3 separate regions of the Homo sapiens genome follow, and all the other regions are linked to region 1. The links come from fine-mapping of genetic effects on gene expression. A gene starts in region 1. Each other region holds a variant in brackets. All regions are shown on one strand. Distances are between the middles of the regions.

The links.
Region 2: its variant is fine-mapped to the expression of ABHD17C in whole blood (TOPMed, PIP 0.95).
Region 3: its variant is fine-mapped to the expression of ABHD17C in blood mononuclear cells (TOPMed, PIP above 0.99). The same link has a PIP of 0.9 or more in T cells, monocytes and whole blood.

What each region holds. Positions count from the first base shown.
Region 1 is chr15:80,692,811-80,698,935 of GRCh38, reverse strand. It overlaps ABHD17C (abhydrolase domain containing 17C, depalmitoylase), which reads right to left and starts at 3,626. Exons shown (of 3, transcript NM_021214.2): 1 at 2,917-3,626. The coding sequence starts at 3,506. RefSeq lists silencers at 2,803-2,862, 3,283-3,332, 3,423-3,842, 3,863-3,972, 3,993-4,152 and 1 more and an enhancer at 3,023-3,092.
Region 2 is chr15:80,732,350-80,738,474 of GRCh38, reverse strand. All of the region lies in intron 1 of ABHD17C (abhydrolase domain containing 17C, depalmitoylase), which reads right to left. Among named protein-coding and RNA genes, the nearest start is that of ABHD17C, 40 kb to the right of the region's middle. The variant GA/A (reference allele first, on the strand shown) is at 2,610.
Region 3 is chr15:80,716,182-80,722,306 of GRCh38, reverse strand. All of the region lies in intron 1 of ABHD17C (abhydrolase domain containing 17C, depalmitoylase), which reads right to left. Among named protein-coding and RNA genes, the nearest start is that of ABHD17C, 24 kb to the right of the region's middle. The variant C/T (reference allele first, on the strand shown) is at 3,422.

The sequences.
Region 1 (6,125 bases):
TACAGAGATGAAGATGACTCAGAACAAGGCAAGCTCTCCAATCAGTGTCCTGGGGAGTGTGGTTAACTAGGAGGGCAGGAAAGATAAAGATTCCCAAAGAAGACATGGGGGATGGCTGGTGGAAAACAGAGTCTGACCCAGTAACAGAAGAATGGACACATGGGATGGAAGGCATTCCTGCCATGGCACTGACATGAATTAAGCTGTAAAAGAAGAGAGAATAGCATAAGAACTTGCTCCAGGCAAGTAAGAGCAGAAGAACCATACTGAACAGCAAGAGGAAAGTGGTTGAGGGGCTGATTGGCTTCAGAATTAGGTAACTCTTATGTCAGCAGAATAACCAAGACACACAAATGCACCTCCTGAAGAATCTGATAAATATGCTTACCGTGGCAATGGTGCCCTCGCAAGAGTACTAAACTGGTAGTCAAGAGACCTACTGCTGATTTGCCGCCAGTCTATCCTCCTGTCAGATGAGCTGGGTGAACGTGTGCAGTGTCCATACATGAGTTGGGAAATAAATTTAGCAATTCACAACCATCTTTTTTTTTCTTTTTTATAAAAGTGAAATAGGCCAGGCGCGGTGGCTCACGCCTGTAATCCCAGCACTTTGGGAGTCCCAGGTGGGCGGATTATGAGGTCAGGAGGTCGAGACCATCCTGGCTAACACGGTGAAACCCCGTCTCTACTAAAAATACAAAAAATTAGCCGGACGCGGTGGCGGGCGCCTGTAGTCCCAGCTACTCGGGAGGCTGAGGTAGGAGAATGGCGTGAACCCGGGAGGTGGAGCTTACAGTGAGCCAAGATGGCGCCACTGCACTCCAGCCTGGGCGACAGAGCAAGACTCCGTCTCAAAAAAAAAAAAAAAAAAAAAGTGAAATAAAACAACATATTCTGCTATGTGTGCTGCCCATAGAAAAATTACTGTTTTGTGAAGCATTGGCTTCAGGTATGTGGATACAGACGTGTATGTGTGCTTGATCAAAACGTAAAATGTGTTTCTTACTGTGAGGTTACAGTCAAAACAGTTTGAAAAGCACAAGACATGAGGATCTATAAGGTTCCTTCAAATTCTAAGCTTCGCATGCAGCCTTCAAATTCTAACCTTTTTTACAGGTGAATAAATTAACTTAGATATGAGTTCTGGTATAACATTAAATAAATCATGGGCAATCTTTAGACATACCATCAGATAATTCAAAGTTATCCGAAACAATTACCCTTAATTCAACTGATACACTATCAGATAATTCAACATTATCCAAAACAACGCCCCTTAATTCAACTAAATATGACCAAAAAAAAAAAAGTTTCCAGGAAATAACTACACTCCACGTAAGCTGTAACACAGACACACCTGTATATTTGGGGCAAAGGGTGAGCCATGTGAAAGGCTTTCATTGTAATGTGGACATGCACACACAGAAGCAATGTTCTATGGAAACTCTTCAATTAAAAAATCTACTCAAGGTAGGATTTTCATGTTTCAAATTTTAAAGATCTAATGCCAACCTTATTTTTAATACCTTTGCCAACAGCAAATTCTAGCAAGCTATAGACTGTGTGTGACACATACTTTTGAAACCCTTTACTGGAACAGGTGGCTTTTAACTACTTACAGACTCTGACCCAATGCATCTGCATATGATACATTCTCATCTGCCTAAGCCACTTTCGAAAAGCTATAATCCCAATGAGGGCATCCCCTTCAGGACTTCAGGAGGGCATAAACATGCAACATAGAGCAAATATTAAGTACTTCCCTGTTGGACAAGCCATTTTCCCAGACAGGCAAGGAGTCACTTAGGAACATATGCGTGAGTACGAATGAAAAAAAAAAATCATTAACGTTGGTGATGTGCATAAGCAAACAGGTTTTAGATAAAAACTATAGAAGGGTCCATGGCGACAATAATGCCCGGTGTACTTCCTCTGGGGACTCTTTCATCTGAAGAAATCAAATCTCATCATAGACATGGCCTCAGGTTATTTTCACCATCACTGCTATGAGGCAGGTCGGAAAGGTCACAGATACCCAAACTGGAGCACAAACAGGTAACCTGACCTGCACATGTATAAGACTTTTGTCTAATAGTGAATAAAAGTCAGGTTTTTGGTTTGCTTGTTATAAAACAACCAGGTCTAACCCCTAAACCATGCCCCCAGTTTGTGCCTGGCTCACAGATGGCCCACCCTAAACACTTTTCAGTCCTTCTGTGAATGCTAATTTAAGGTCAGAGATTTCCCAGCCCCTGCAAGTTTCAAACTTATCCTGGACTGTTATGGAGGCCGTGTGGAAGGTGCCAGGCCCACAGCTACCAGCTAACTTCCTGCCCCACAGTGCCACTACTTTGCCCCACCAGGAGGCAAACTCCCCGCTCCACCTGACGCTCCAGCTGTTTCCAAGGTTGCCCAGACATTGTCCTGCCCGCACTTTACAACCAGAAAGTCTTTTAGAGGCCATCCTGTCTCGCCCACTGACTTTACAGGGAAGGAAACTGAGTCTAGAAACCCATGTGCCTTGCCCAAGGTCACTTCAGCTCGTACAAACGAAACTCGAACCAAGTTGTTTCTTTCTGCCCGGTACTTAAGCACCCACACTCTGCCACTCGCGGTGACCGGAGCCACAAAAGACCCAGCCGGTGGGCCGGCGACACACAGGCGAGCCAAAGCAGGCAAAATTCTCTGAGTCCGAGCTCTCCAGGAACCTGAAGGCTGGCGCGGTTTTTGGAGAGGGTGGGAGCAAGCCAGGGTGGGACAAGAAAAGCGAATTTACGGCGGCCAAGGGGCTCTCCGCTGGCCCTCAGCCCCGGAGGAGGGGCCCCTCTCCTGGCAGGCCGCCCCAGGGGCCCCAAGAGACCCCCACCCCGCCTCCCCACAGCTGGAAGTCAGGCCTGGCGACCCCGGCAGGCTCACCGGGTGCGCAGCGCCTGCCACGCGGCGTCGATGTCGGCGTAGAGGTTCTTCTCGGAGGGCTTGCCCGAGCTGACGCCGTATCCCGAGTAGTCGTAGGAGAAGATGTTGCAGTTGATGCGGGAGCCGAGGCCAATGTAGAAGCTGCACATCTGGCCCAGGTCCACGGCGTTGCCGTGCGAGAAGAGCAGCGTGTAGCGGCTGGAGGGCGCGCAGCGCACGAACATGCAGCCGAGCCGGTTGTCCCGGGCCGTGCGCGAGAAGAAGACCTCGACGGCGTCCAGCTCGCGCTGCGAGTACTGCCAGTCGGCGCGCTCGCTGAGGTGCAGGCTGCACGCACCGGGCCCCGCGCCCGCGCCCTCCTCGGGCTGCTGCGGTGCCGGCTGGGCCGCGGCGGCGGCGGCGGTAGCCTGGGCCGGGGCCGGGGCGGACGCGCCGGCGCCGCGCTGCTCCGGCGCCAGCACCGTGTAGGTGGGCTCGGGCGGCAGGAAGGCCAGCTTGGCGGCGATGCGGCTCGGGCAGGGCGGGCAGCAGAAGAGCCAGCACAGCTCACCCAGCGAGAAGCCGTTCATCCTGGGGCCTGGCTCGGGCATCGGGACGGCCTGGTGCCCGCCGCCGGCCCGGCTGGCTGGCTGGCTGGCTGGCCCGGGAGGACGGAGGACGGACGCGCGGCGAGGGAGCTGGCAGGCGAGCGCGGAGGGCGGCTGCAGCCCGCCCGCCCGGCGGCAGGAGGAGGCGGAGGCGGAGGAGGGCAGGAGGCGGGGCCGGCCCGGCGGGCGCGGCGCTCGGAGCCCGGGCGGGTCAGCGGCGGCCCCGGAACCCAGGCGAGGCGCGGGCGGCCCGGGCCCGCGCGCGGCACACAAAGCCGGCGGCGGCGTCCATGGCCGGCTCGTGCGCGCCGCCCCCCGCTCCCGTTCCCGCTCCCGCACGCCCGCCGCCGCCGCCGCCGCCGCCGCCACTTCCGGGTTACCGCGCGGCGGCGCCGCCGCTGGGACGCGGCGCAGAGCCGGGCATCGGGGCGGGGCGCTGCGGGCAAGGGCGCGGGCACCTTCCCCGGCCTGGGAAGCACCTTCTCGACCTGCGGCCGACGGGGGCTTCCAGGCGGCTCCGGGGCCCGGAGAAGCTGGGTGCCGGGGCTGGGGGCTCTGCGCCCGGACAGCTGGGCCGATCTGCAGAGGGGACCCTGGAGGGGGTGCATGTGTCCCGGGGTGGACCGCTCCCCTCCCCTCCCCCTGGGATTCCCTCCCCCAAATCCAGGTTTCTCCCGTGGATGGAGGTTCTTGGGAGTCTACTGAAAAGGAAACTAAGGGGTGGACAAGAGTTGGAATGTGCCCGAAATATTTGGCTCTCGTGTGTGCTGCTTTCTGAACTGGCTCAGTACCAAAAGTTCTCAGCACCGTAAGGGGTACCGGGGTTGTGGGATAGGGTGGTCATCAGTGTGTTTCTTATTAGGAGAGGCTGTTTCTGTATAGGTAGCAACAGCGTTTCCTTTCTAAGGGCATGGTTTTACCCTTAGTACATTTCTGTATCTATAAAAGTCAGCTGTTAGAACAGGAGGGTACTGTATTTAGCAACAAACCATGTTGAGGTTGTCATTTCTAATCCCACGTGTGGCAGATTTTCCGGTAGTAAGTATATACTAGGTATCGTTTACAGTGTTTGTGTCTCTAGAGTTGTTTTGGGTCCAGGATTTTTCAGTGGTCTTAGTCATGAACGATTCTTATACTGCTTTAAATCTACTGTAATCTTGGCAGCCACCTTTACATGATTTTTCAAATATAACTCTCGGTGCCTTGAAACTGTGCTCTGGTGCCAGTTTCCACAGAGCCTTCTATACTTCCTTTTTCCCGCCTGATTTGGCAGCTGAAGAATTCCCTTTCAGGAACTGACAGGAGATACCCTTCCTGGACTGCCAGCAGGGCAGCTAGAGACTGGGAGGTTGGCACAATCCCTACGCTGGGTCTGTTGTTTTAACTCACAGATGTCCTGAGAATTTTACCTTTCGTTGTGACTTTCCACAGGACGAATATTTTGAGCACCGTCATCTAAATGAATTGCCGATACTGATTTCATTAACCTTCAGGACCTCGCTTTTAATTTTTTCTTTTTTAAGAGACAGGGTCTTACTGTATTGTCCAGGCTGGACTCCCAACTCCTGGGCTCAAATGACCCTCCGGCCTGCCTCCCAAGTAGCTAGGACTACCGGCACATGCCACCTTGCCCAGCTAGGACCTGGGTTTTAAAAGGCCATTTCTTCACTAAAACAATTTTACTTGTTTTTGAACTATTCAAACTTGATTTTTAAAAACCTGGTAACAAAGCCTGTCCAGATTGCATATTTGAAGTCTGTTTTGAAGGTTTTCACACTTGGTGAAACTCTTCACATAAAGCCCAATTCTAGCTTTGCAGGTTTGCATTTCCTTTTTTTTTTTTTTTTTTTTAAAAAAAGAATTTTTCTGCGAAAATCCTTTAAAAAGAAAAAAAAGCTTTATACAGCTGGGCACAGTGACTCACGCCTGTAATCCCACCACTTTGGGAGGCTGAGGAGGGTGGATCACTTCAAGTCAGAAGTTCAAGACCAGCCTGGCCAACATAATGAAACTCCGTCTCTACTGAAAATACAAAAATTAGCCGGCCATGGTGGCGTGCACCTACAATCCCGGCTACTCAGGAGGCTGAGGCACGAGAATCACTTGAAGCTAGGAGGCAGAGGTTACGGTGAGCCGAGATCATGCCACTGCACTCCAGCCTGGGTGACAGAGTGAGACTATGTCTCAAAAAAATAAAAAGGCTTTCTAACTTGCTACACATTGGTATACTTTGGTCACTTTATTGTATTCAGCATTTATGTATGTAATGTTTTTTGTGCTCACAGCATCCACTGTGTTAGGTGCTACAGCTACCAAGGTGAGTAAGATAGTCCCTGCTCTCAGATACCTTACAGTCTAATTAGGGCATCAGCAGAAGATTCAAAACAGTTTTTATGTGCCTTTAAAAAAAATCAAGTCCTCATAAAAGCTAAGAAGATGGTCTTGCGTCCTGATTCAGTGGTGATATTTCTATGGGGAGCTAAGGTTATAGTCGAGTGCATTAGTCCCTAATCTAATTCAGAACAAGAATCAAACTTTGGGAACTGAGATGAAAGGGTATCTAACAGCCCCCTAGTCAGTCTTTCTCAGATACCACTCCTCTCACCTGTCCTTTATAAGAAT
Region 2 (6,125 bases), 40 kb before region 1:
CTTCTGTTTGGTTTGTGAACCCGCACAGTTTGCCCAATGATGAACATCTCCATCCAGGTACCCAGAGTCTTTCTGGAAACCTTACTCTTGCTGCCTGTACATCCCCTCCATGGTGCTCAGACTGCCCCACAGGGACCTTGGCTGCCCAAACTTCCCACCTGTTCTGTCCTATCCTGTTGGTTTCTGTGTATCAGCTTATGGTTGAGAAGGAAGCAGGTGTTACGGTTCTTGACTACTGACCTGGTGTCAATCCATTGCTGTACCCTGACTCACGCTAACAGCATACACTCTGATGGCCTACCAGCTTCCATCCCAGCTTCTCCCTTTTTCCCAAGGCAGAACCTGAGAATCCCTCAGGCATAATCAATGCCCACAGCTGACTTCTTCTCTTCTCTCCCAGACCTGTTTTCCTTCCAATTCTATCTATATAAACTGTCCCACTCATGTCACTCCCTACTCCAATCCGTCCTTCCCAACAGATATATCTTCCTTGAAAAAAGAAAAAAAAAACAAACTTTTTTTATGCTGCTTTGTTCATCAAACTCTTTGGACAATCACTGTGCTTAGGATAAAAGTCCATGTCCACAATCTAGCCCCATCCGACTATTCCAACATTTTCTTTTCTCTCCAGGTGGCCCTTCTGCTCCTGTGGCTCAGGCTCTTCCCTCACTGGCTCATAAACACCCCCTGCCTGGAATGTTCTCCCTCCTTGTCATCACCTGGACAACTCTGGGGTCCTACAGGTCCATTCCGGTCCTACCTCGTCCTTTCACATTTCTTGACTCCTCCAGTCTACAGACATAATTTTCTTTCCTGAGCCATCCACTCAGATGCTTAATGACAGGAAGGTGGATGTGTTTAACTGCACCGTGGCATGCCCTACACTTACAATGACGATGTAAGCTCCACAAGGGTAGATAAAATTGTATCTCCCTTTGGGCAAGTTAACAATTTCCAGGCTCAGGGATCAGTGAGTTGGGGGGCACCTTTTGCTTTGAACAGAATGTGATTCTAGCCAAAAGCTGTTTTTGAACAAATTAAAATTAAATTTCAGACACAGTCATCATTCCAGTGGACATATAATCCATTCGAAGTTTACCATCACCTTGGGGATCTAGACAGGAACAGAATCTCTTGCAGCAAAAACAAAGACCGTACTAATATTTAGTAAGCATGCAAGCATTAACATTTTTAAGCATGATGTAAGATTTTCTTAAAACAGAGCACAAGAAATTAAAGTCTCCCAATTTTTACCGGGGGAAGCCACAGCCCTGAATCATTACTCTTTGTCACGGGCAGTGCGATGTGTGCAGTAATCCCCTTTGCAAGTTTTTGCTCTCAGCCTCTCCCAATGTCTACCATCCTTTTGCAGTCACAGGCTATGCTGAGTACAGGTTGATCAGCACGAATTTGGGTTTCCATTCCCACTCAGCATATGGGAATGGGACATGCCCCCAAGAGCACCCTGAAACCGAGGGTTTGGCAGCCATCTCAGCAGCAAGAGGAAGCACTGAGGCAGGAAGTTCCTGCAATGGAGGCTGACAGCGCCAAGGAGATGGTGTCTCATGGGAACGATCACTTATAAAGTTAAAATCTGTTTGTTTTTGTTTTAATGTAAGGCTTGCTTTTCCTTCTACAACCATGAACAAGCCTGGCCTCCCTGAGACACACTGCATCCTGTTTAAGTTAATGGGCCTTGACTTTGTCCTTTGTCAGGAGCTCTCCCATTTATCTTCAGAGAAGCACGCTTGGCACAGTTCCACTGACTTTGAAGTCAACATTTTAAATATTTCAGAGTTAGAATTCCTAGTGGAAATATCTTAAGACATAGGAAGAAGATAAATACACAAGGTAACGTGAATGTTAACTGAAGGATGAGGTCTGAGGATACTGAGAAATCCTACTAACTTTATAAACTTTAGATAAACATTAAAAAAATAAAAATTAAACTTTAGAGAAAAGCCTCAGAATAAAAAGACTGACTATGCAAGGGAAGCAGGTGTGTAAATAGGACCAGCCAGAAAACACAGTCCCTCGGTCATGTGGAATACTTTTGCCCCAGGCAAACCTTTTAGCCAAAACTTAACAAACGTGCTTTATATTTTAATTATGAGGAAGAGGAGGAAAAAAGCATCAATCACCTAAAATGTACTTATTGTTCCTTAAAATACAACTTTGTTTTGAGGAACTGTCAAAAAAAACAAAAACACGTTTGTAGATTTGGAAAATTTTTTAGCATTATACTAAGTAAAATTTCACAAACAGACTTCTATTGGTTGTTCATTCCAATGGTGAAAACAAAGAAAACACATTTTAAAGTATCCGCTGTTTTGGTGCTATGTGGATAAAAATTTAAAGGTTAGTAATGTCTGCTGTATATTTTTTCCTTTTTCTAATTTTTAACTAATTTGATTAAAAGGGTCATTTATAAGCAGCTCATTATAACCCCTGGAAGTTTCTAAAACCTGGGCACAGTCCAGGTATTCTCTCAACAGTGGTTATAAAAGAAAACATACCAAATACAGCATTAAAAGTAGGCTCAGTCCCTTCAAGTAACACTGGATGTAAGGAGGGTAAACCATGTGCTCTTGAGTTACAGGTCTTTGGGG[GA/A]AATAATGAAGGAAATGAGATTCAAAACAAGAAATAACACTAAAACCAAGTATAAATGTAGGCAAAATTAATATTATGGTCAAGTTCATTGAGGTACAGCAAAGAGAATGATCGAAATGGGGACCTGAAAGTCGGAAAAAGCTTCAGGTAGAAGGTGGAGCTCAAAGCCAATGTCAAAGGAGAGGAGATTTAAAAACATGAAGAAAGGCAATAGCAGCAGGGGAGGGAGAGTCTCTCTTGAACACGGCACTGGAGCCCGCCCTGGCTGGAGCGAGGGTTTGATGGTAGGCAGCGGCAGGGGCGTAAAAACAAGGAGGAAACAGAGTGTGGAAAGGCTTGGGAACGCACACAAGATCCGACAAGGTGGAGGTGGGTGGTGAGAGTGGCAATGGGAAGGAGGGTGCTGGGTGGGAAGAAGTGCTTTGCAGAAGAGTGTTGCTCTTATCCCACATGCATGTAGCAGGTAGAGGGGCACAGGGAGAGATTCAAAGACAATTCTATAGGTAAGTGTTGAGAAAATTGGCACAAATTGGGAGGTTGGGAAGGAGATAATAGGTAGAGTTGGATTTTTGTCTGTTTCAGTAGGAAATAAGTTTAGTTTGGGAATATATTGAGTTTCAGGGAACTTTGGAACATGCTAATAAGCAGGGCATAAAAGGTTAACCTCTCAGGGTTAATTACAAAGAAAAATCTTCCTGAAACTGGATATCTATGTTAAGAAAGACCAGTCCCTGAGCTCTCCTCATTCTTTCTCCTGCCACAGTGCAGAGGAAGACAAGTGGCCGGAAGTAGCAGCCTGGGGGATATCTGTTCAAGCAAGGACACAGGAGCAGAGCTAACAGCAGAGGCTCTGGAAGGCCCAGGTCCCATGCGAGATGATGATACCATAATGCACAGAGTAACAAGGGCATTTTAGGAAAACATAACTTACAAAAGGGCTTGGTGTGGTGAAATACCTGCTAATCAATGTAGCCTTTCCTAAACCTATTCACTCATTTCAATACATATCAAGACAAGCTTTACCTAATTTTTGTAAAGCAGCATCCACCCTTAATGTATGATGCTTCATTCTATCCTAGATGTTTGAAATTCTTTTCAAATAGTGGTTCAAGGAAGGGCCCTCTGTGTCATGTCAAAATCTACCTTCAAAAGAATGTAATACTTTATGACATTCAAGACTATTCTCTCCTACCATATACCCTTTCTCTGTGCCAAAGCAAAAATAAACAAGACCTGACATGATGACTTCATTTTAATTTTTTAAAATTTAAAAAATTTTATCTTCCATTTTTCAGAGGAAAAGTTATAGTCCTAAAAAATATAAAATTAAATCTCTTTGGATCTGCTACAAGTAAAATAGAATAATTTGCTTGAACTTATCTGAGTATAATTGTGCATGAAACTGTTCTAATAATAATGGAGATTCTTTTGGCATTCTGTAATTATTTAACATGTTGGAAAAGCCAGAAAATGCTGCCTTCTCTCTACAACTGCACAAATATCTGTCGAATGGTTAGAAAGCTACCTCCTCCACAGGGCATTTGAGCAGACTGCACAAGCTGGCTTATATAAAACATCTAGGCCAGACATGGTGGCTCACACCTGTAATCCCAGCACTCTGGGAGGCCGAGGTGGGAGGATTGCTTGGGCCCAGGAGTTCAAGACCACTCTGGGCAACATGGTGAATCCCTATCTCTACCAAAAATACAAAAATTAGTCCGGCATGGTGGTGCACATCTGTAGCCCCAGCTACTCGGGAGGTTGAGGTAGGAGGATGGTTTGAGTCCGGGACGTGGAAGTTGCAATGAGCCAAGATCGCACCACTGTACTCCAGCCTGGGTGACAGAGCCAGACCCTGTTTTAAAAAAATAAATAAATAAATAAATAAATAAATAAATAAATAATAAAATAAAATTCACCATTCCATTTCCAAGAAACCCAGCCAAAAGTTAAGGTACAGATTTCATGAATTCTCTGTTGGGGAAAAAAAAACTTTAAATATTGAATTTAATTATCAATTTGATTGCCAAGGCTGAAAAATATTTCTTAGAACTAGAAACTCAAGTATCTAATTTCTAATTGTTTTATCTCTTTGTAGGATGAGTTCATACAAGTGCTATAGTGGAGGAGACACAGATGGTTGGTGAGTTTGCCTGCTTGACACTGACTTGCAAATGACTGTGAATCTGAGACAGCAATGCTACATTTAGCTCCTGCACTAAAACTGCTGAGATGTTTGCCAGGAAGTTCTTGGATAGTGACTTACTGGGGATAGAGAACGTGTATGACCTGTTCTGTCTTTTTGGAGCATCCCTCTGCCTCCCAGTCCTTGAACTCTAGGTGTGAATACATGTCCAGGTCTGGGCAATAAGAGTATTGAATCCTCCTGGCCAGAGTGACTTCTTAGGGGATAAGCCTAGGACCCAAGCCTGGTCAATCCCAGTCCTCCCCAGGATGTCAGCACCCTCTTCTGCTGAGCCTGGGGCCTCCTTGAGAATTACACAAGGAAGAAAGCAAAGCTGAGAGCAAGTGAGCCTGCTTGATGCCATCGTCTGAGGCCCTGTACCCAGACATGAGAGCTTAGAGTCCTCTCTCTTAATGCTGGACTAAAACAGGGATTCTGTAAGTAACCTGGAGTATGTGGTCATGACCATGAGGAGGTCGGGGACAGGGGAGGGAAGGTGGAGATTCGTAGAGGACATAGAAAGAAGAGTACGCTCTGCAATCAGACAGCACAAGGTCTGAACCCAGCTCTGCCTTGCACCTGTAGCACCCTCTCCACGGCCATAGAAAGGTGGAGTAAGGCTTGCCTCTGGGACTGCTGCAAGAATTAAATAGGCAGTGAGTGAAACTGACAGGCTGGGGCAGGCCAGCCTTAATCCTCTCTCCTGCACTTGTAGTCCTTCACCCATCCAGGCCACTTTCCTGTTTCCATAAACAGCGAGGCCTAAGTGGAGTCAAATGCAGCCCCAGGACACCACAAGGCCACATGTGAACTGAAACCTGAATGCTGGCCCACTTATTCCATCAGCTCTGGCTCAGCACTGCCCACTCTTGCTGTTTACTCCCTTAAATGTGTTTTGCAAACATTCAAAATGGAAGTGTGTTAAACAGACACTTTCCGCTGGGCAGAACCCATGAAGCAGCGAAGCAGCCCTTTGGCCCCTCCTTGATGGCATCTTCAGTTCTGTTCTCCTGGGCCTAATCCTCTCTTTGTGCCCGTCTTACCTTCTGTTTTCCTTGTATTTCCTACTTTCCATTCTGCAACCAGAAACCTTCTATCCCCCCACCCCGTCCTTTTTAAAAGCTTAAAAAGTTCATAGCATCATTTGTGGAAATATACCAAACACAGGATAGAAATGAAAAGGCCCTTAGAGAATCACACAGATGGTCCACTTTATTTCATAGAGAAGGAAACTAAAGCTCTGAGAGAGGTTAATGACTTAACTCAGAATGGAAACTGCCAAGAGAGCTGCTTGCGATAAGCCTATCAGAGTCTGGGATATGGACTAAAC
Region 3 (6,125 bases), 23 kb before region 1:
TAGTTCAAAATGATGACCTGAGCCCATCTGTTCACTTTTCAACCAATCCAAACATCACTGGAAAAGCAGCATAAAAATTAGAAAGAAATAAACTTACAACAGCAGAGAGAATAGGAAGACAGGGAAAAATCAGAAGGAATTCCAGTGCGCTTCTCGGTAACTGAAGGTGTGTGGAAACAAACTGACGGATAAAATCGAGTGGAGAACTCTGTCCAGGACATGCTATAACAGGGCTGCAGGGAAGATGGAAACCACCTGAATCCCAGAGAGGATTCCGACTCAAAATTAGCATGCAACTAAAAATAGGTAAATTATAGGAAGTCTGAACAGAAAGTTATACAAATCCAACTCCCTTCCCAACACAAAGTATAAAGCCCTCCTGGGTGAGCTAAGACTTTTAGTTGGTGCTCTCAAGGAAAGTCATCCTTATGCTGGCACTGGGGGGCCTCCTTCCCTCCAGAAACAAAGTCTACCACAACAAGGAAGGAGGCCCCCAGTGCCCTACTGGCTGCGTGTGTCTGAAAGCCCCCAGCCAAATTTCCTCTTGCGGGAGAGGCCTGGCAAGGAATACCACCTTACGCTGCACAGAGGAAACCCAACCTGGTTACCCAATCTTTCCTTCCTCAGTGTAAACTGAAGAACAAAAGTGACGACAATGACAATAGCATTTATGGCACATCTGCTATTTTGCCTGTGATGACGATGACAATGACGATAGCATTTACGGCACATTTGCTATTTGCCTGGCACAATTCTAAAAGTACATGTACTAAATGATTTAATGTTCAATACCTCTAGCAGTTGGATATCATTATTATTAAAGTACTTTGCAATTAGGAAATGAAAAAGCCAAGATTCAGCCCAAATCTGAGCCAGTGACCAGGCTCTTTATCACCAAGCTAACCTACCAACATACAAGGAAAGCTAGCAGCATCAAAGACCCAAGTATCTTTCACAGAGGACTCAGACAGGTATGGGACCAGCATATAGGGCTTAAAAAAATAAGTATACTCTTGGATTTATGAAAATATATCCTTAAAACAAGAGCAGGATGTTATGAAAAAGGGAAGTCAAAGAGTTAAAAAAAAAAAAAGACAAAAAATGATGGGTAAACACAAAATCTAACTCACAGTCCCAAAAATAAAGTTGAAGAGGCCTCTCAGAATATCAAACAAAGTAGACAAAAAGATGGAGAATATGGGAGACAAGGAAAATCCAGAGGTCAGTATAATAGAAGTTGTAATAAAAGACACCTATGAAAATGTAGGAAAAGAAATTTTGAAAGAAATATTAAAGAAAATCTCTGAGACCAAAGGATCCAAGTCTTCAGTCGGTAAGGGCCCCCATTAAGTGTTCAACATAAATTAATATTTTTTTTTTTTTTTTGAGACAGAGTCTCACTCTGTTGCCCAGGCTGGAGTGCAGTGGCGTGATCTCGGCTCACTGCAACCTCCACCTCCCGGGTTCAAGTGATTCTCCTGCCTCAGCCTCCCAAGTAGCTGGGATTACAGGCACCCGTCACCACGCCTGGCTAATTTTTGTATTTTTAGTAGAGACGGAGTTTCACCATGTTGGCCAGGTTGGTCACAAACTCCTGACCTCAGGTGATCCGCCTGCCTAGGCCTCCCAAAGAGCTGGGATTACAGGCATGAGCCACTGCGTCCGGCCATTAATAATCATTTTTAAAAGACCCTCCCTTGGAATATTTTTGTAAAACTTCAGAACACAAAGAATATATATAAAAAAATCCTAAAAGCTTCCTTAGAAGAAAAAACAGGCCAGCTTCAAGAAACCAGAACCAGTCCAGCACCAGGCTCTGCATTCCAGGTGCCTACAGGACAATGCCTTCTACATTCTCAAGTCAACTGACCTTCAGACATGGATCCATCAAGTGGTTTCTAGAAAGTTTACCTCCTACATTTCCATTCCTTTGAAGATATTACAAACTTCCTCTAGCAAAACTAGAAAGAGAACCAAGAAAGAACAAGTAGAAACTGGAAAACAGGGGGCCCACCAAGAAAGGGGAAAGGCCTCAGGTGATCCCTGAGTCCTGGGCAGGGAAGCAGAAAATTAAATTGGGAGAAAGTGAAAGGTTCCAAAAGACAAGGGAGAGTGTGATGCAAAAGACAGTGTAACAAAGAAGACAGAAACATCTGAGCAAATGATGAAACCCCACGATCCTTTTCTAAACAACAAAAAGAAAAGGAGGCTGGTTGCGGTAGCTCACGCCTGTAATCTCAGCACTTTGGGAGGCTAAGGTGGGAGGGCTTCTTGAGCCCAGGAGTTCAAGACTAGCCGGGCCAACATGGCAAAACCCCACCTCAACAAAGAATACAAAAAAATTGGTTGGGCGTGGTGGTGTGCACTTGTAGTCTCAGCTACTTAGAAGGCTGAGGTGGGAGGATTGTTGGAGCCTGGGAGGCGGAGGCTGCAGTGAGCTGAGATCACACTACTGCACTCCATCCTGAGCGATAGAACAAGACTCTGTTTCCAAAAAACAAAAAGAAAAGGTGATCACAAAATTCAGGAAATGTAAAATGTAATATAAAGAAATCATGATTCAAAGATGAAATTAGATATATAGCAGTTTTTAAGCCATGATTGGAGTACACATTTGCCTTAAATCAGAAAGATCTACAAAACATGATCTTTGAATGGGCTGGAAGCCCTGAAACCATGTGTAGAGATGAAAATGTTACTCTAGCATAACACATATCCCCATAGTAATGATATTTGCTGATTTTTTAAACTTATAAATTCAAATGATAGAAATCAATGGAAAGTCACTTGTGACTACCAGAAAGAATGGAGATGTTTGCAACCTTAATCCTGTAGTAGTAAAAGTTAGGCTGACAGCAAGTAGGAACTGGGGGTAAGGAAAGGGAGGAGAGTTCGGGTGCTCATGCAAGGGGACAGAAGAAGAAATAAAGCTCATGGACATTACCTAAAAATTACAAACACTCTCAATGAAGAACCAAAAATAACTATAAAACACTGGAAATAGTAAAAGGAAGTCCGCAAAATTGGTTAACCAAGAAAAATTCTCACTTCTTTGCAGAAAGTCAACAAATAACTGTCTAAAGTTGTTCCTGGTTATTAGGAGTCAAGAGGAAGAGGGATGGCTCTTGCTTTTCTTCGTGATCTTTTCTGTTTGACTCGTTACATTGTCTGCATATATTATTTAAGTAGAAACATTAAATGTTATCATTAAAATGCTACTCATTTATTACTAAGTCTTCTCACTGGAAGGCTGGTATATCCTAATACCTAATAACACATCTTACTGTACTTATCAAGGCATATTCTCCATTAATACCCCAAAGGCATTCCTTCTTTAAAAAAATAGAAGAGGGAGTTACTACCCTGTATGTCGCCATCATCACTGTATGAGGACATGAAATGCTGGCATTATTCAGACTGA[C/T]TGACAAAGTTACACAAAGTTATTATCTCTCTCCTCTACCTTACTCTGCCCTTCATAAATCAACCGTGTCTCTTCAGCTGTAGCAAAATGACGCCACTCTATTGGAATGATGCTGCAGTCCTCCAAGTCACCAGATGCTAATTTGCAGTAATTACATTTAAGAATCTGATCTAAAAACCAAGATTGAATATTAAGGTCAGTGGCAAGGAGATATTGATGGGCAAAGTGTGGGGTTTAAAATTACAAGAAGCGGCTGGGCATGGGTGGCTCATGCCTGTAATCCCAGCACTTTGGGAGGCTGAGGTGGGATGATCACTTGAGATCAGAAGTTCAAGACTAACCTGGCCAACATGGTGAAACCTCGTCTCTACTAAAAAATACAAAAATTAGCCAGGCATGGTGGCACATGCTTGTAATCCCAGCTACTCCAGAGGCGGAGGCAGGAGAATCACTTGAACTCGGGAAGCAAAGGCTGCAGTGAGCCGAGATTGTGCTACTGTGCTCCAGCCTGGGCAACAGAGTAAGACTCTATTTCAAAAAAATAAATAAATAAAATTTAAAAATAAAATAAAATTACAAGAAGACATTTAATATAGATAAATATTTTAAAGTCTTCAAAGCCAGTCAAAAAAAAAATAAACTACAAGCTAGAGACCTGATTTGGCAATAGTTTATGGGGGGAAATTTTTTGAGGGAGGATCTTATAATTGATCAAAAGCATGGGACTGTTAGAAAAGCTTACACGGGCAGTGTTCAAATCTCAAACAATCCTATGCTCCTAATCTAAACCACCTTCCTAACAACTCAAGTAGGCTTCTGTTTTGTTTTGTTTTTATTTAACTATTTATTTATTTTTCAATAATCAGGCAGTCTGTCTGAACTGGAACAGGTTCAGAGAGACTCCCCAGGCAGACCTCTGTATTCCATGATGATGGGGCTACCAGCTAGTAGTTCCGTTAGGCGAGCAGCAGCATCCTTACTCAGCAGTACTTGTGAAATCATGGGAATATTTTATTGCAACCATTTTCAAATTCTGTTTCAGAGCATCTTAAGCTCCCCAGGAACCTAGTCCAGGGGAGAAGGTTCGGCTTCCTACTCTGGTTCAATCCTAATTCAACTTTTGAAGAAAAATGGTTCCAATTTTTAAAAATAAAGATTGCCAAATAAAGATTTTAAAACCACTGTTAAAATGCATTTTGCAGCTGGGCACAATGGCTCACGCCTGTAATCCCAGCACTTTGGGAGGCCGAGGCGGGTGGATCACTTGAAGTCAGGAGTTCAAGACCAGCCTGGCTAACATGATGAAAATACTAAAGATACAAAAATTAGCCAGGCATGGTGGTGCACATCTGTAATCCCAGCTACTCAGGTGGCTGAGGCATGAGAATCGCTTGAAACTGGGAAGCAGAGGTTGCAGTGAGCCAAGATTATGCCACCGCCCTCCAGCCTGCGCAACAAATTGAGTCTGTCTCAAAAAAAAAAAAAAAATTTGTTGTAATTTTATAACGAGTGGAAAATAGAAAAAAATGAAAGTGCTCAAATTAATAATAAGCCCAAGACTCAAACTTAATATGGATGAGGCAAAGATGAAAAGTATTAGCTATGCCAAAACTCTTTTTTTTTTTTTTGGCCCCCATCAAATGCTCACTGGCCTCTGGCTGATAGAGTGTATGTTCAATTGTAAAGGAAAACAAGAACATGTAAAGCACATGTGTGAAAACCCAGAAATAAATGTCATTTAAAAAACTATTAATAAAAATAAAAATATAACTAGGGAAATATTTTTAAGTAAGCTTTCAATGAATGGAATCTTCCCTATAACAAGTCTATCATCCTGCTCAAAGCAATATTTTCAGAAATGCTTTTCAGATAATAGCAGGCTATTTGTTCATCTTTAAGCCTCATTAACTGGCGAGATGAGGTCATGGGGGAACAGACCCACTGCACTGCCCCTCGTCAGACCATACCTGCACTACGGGCCTGTCTCAGAAATTCTGCTCAACAGGGATGCGTTCGGAGAGAAGGACATGGATGGTGAAGAATTTGGAAATACCTTATACAAAGAATGGTCAAGGGAACTGGGAACATTCCGGCTGCAAAAGAGATTAAGTAAGAGAATAATTTAATCTACTTCACCCAGGATTTATTGAGGCTCCACTTCACGTTAGGTTCTGTAGGGAATTCAAATATGAACAAGACGCCACTTCTGCCTTCATGGAGCTTACAAACCAGCAGTTTCCAAGTATCTGATGGGATGTAAAGTGGAATGACAACCGAGAACTAGGGATTTAAGATGATTTCCTTTATTAATGGCATCTTACACTAGAGATCCAATCTACCAAGAAACCTACAGAGGCTCTAGACATGATCGTAGCTCTTCTATTGCCAGGGCCCCCTCATTTTAGGGTTAAAGGGAACTTCTTACTTTGTAGAAATTGTGGGGGACCTACAGACTGGCAAGAACCCATGAAGCAGAGACGTTTCCAACAAGGTCACAGGCCTTGTCTTACGCGGCTGTCCCTGTGGTCTTGAGACAGAAGCATGTCGGAGCTTAGTCTGTGGAATTAGGTCAAAGAGCCTTTACTGAGAACTGCCAAGGACCAGGCTCCTGAGCAGCTAGTTATAATCAACATCCTTTCTCCCTGGAGTACGCACATCTCCAGGAAGCCACCTGCAATAATAAGCCATGCTCTTGGAAGATAAA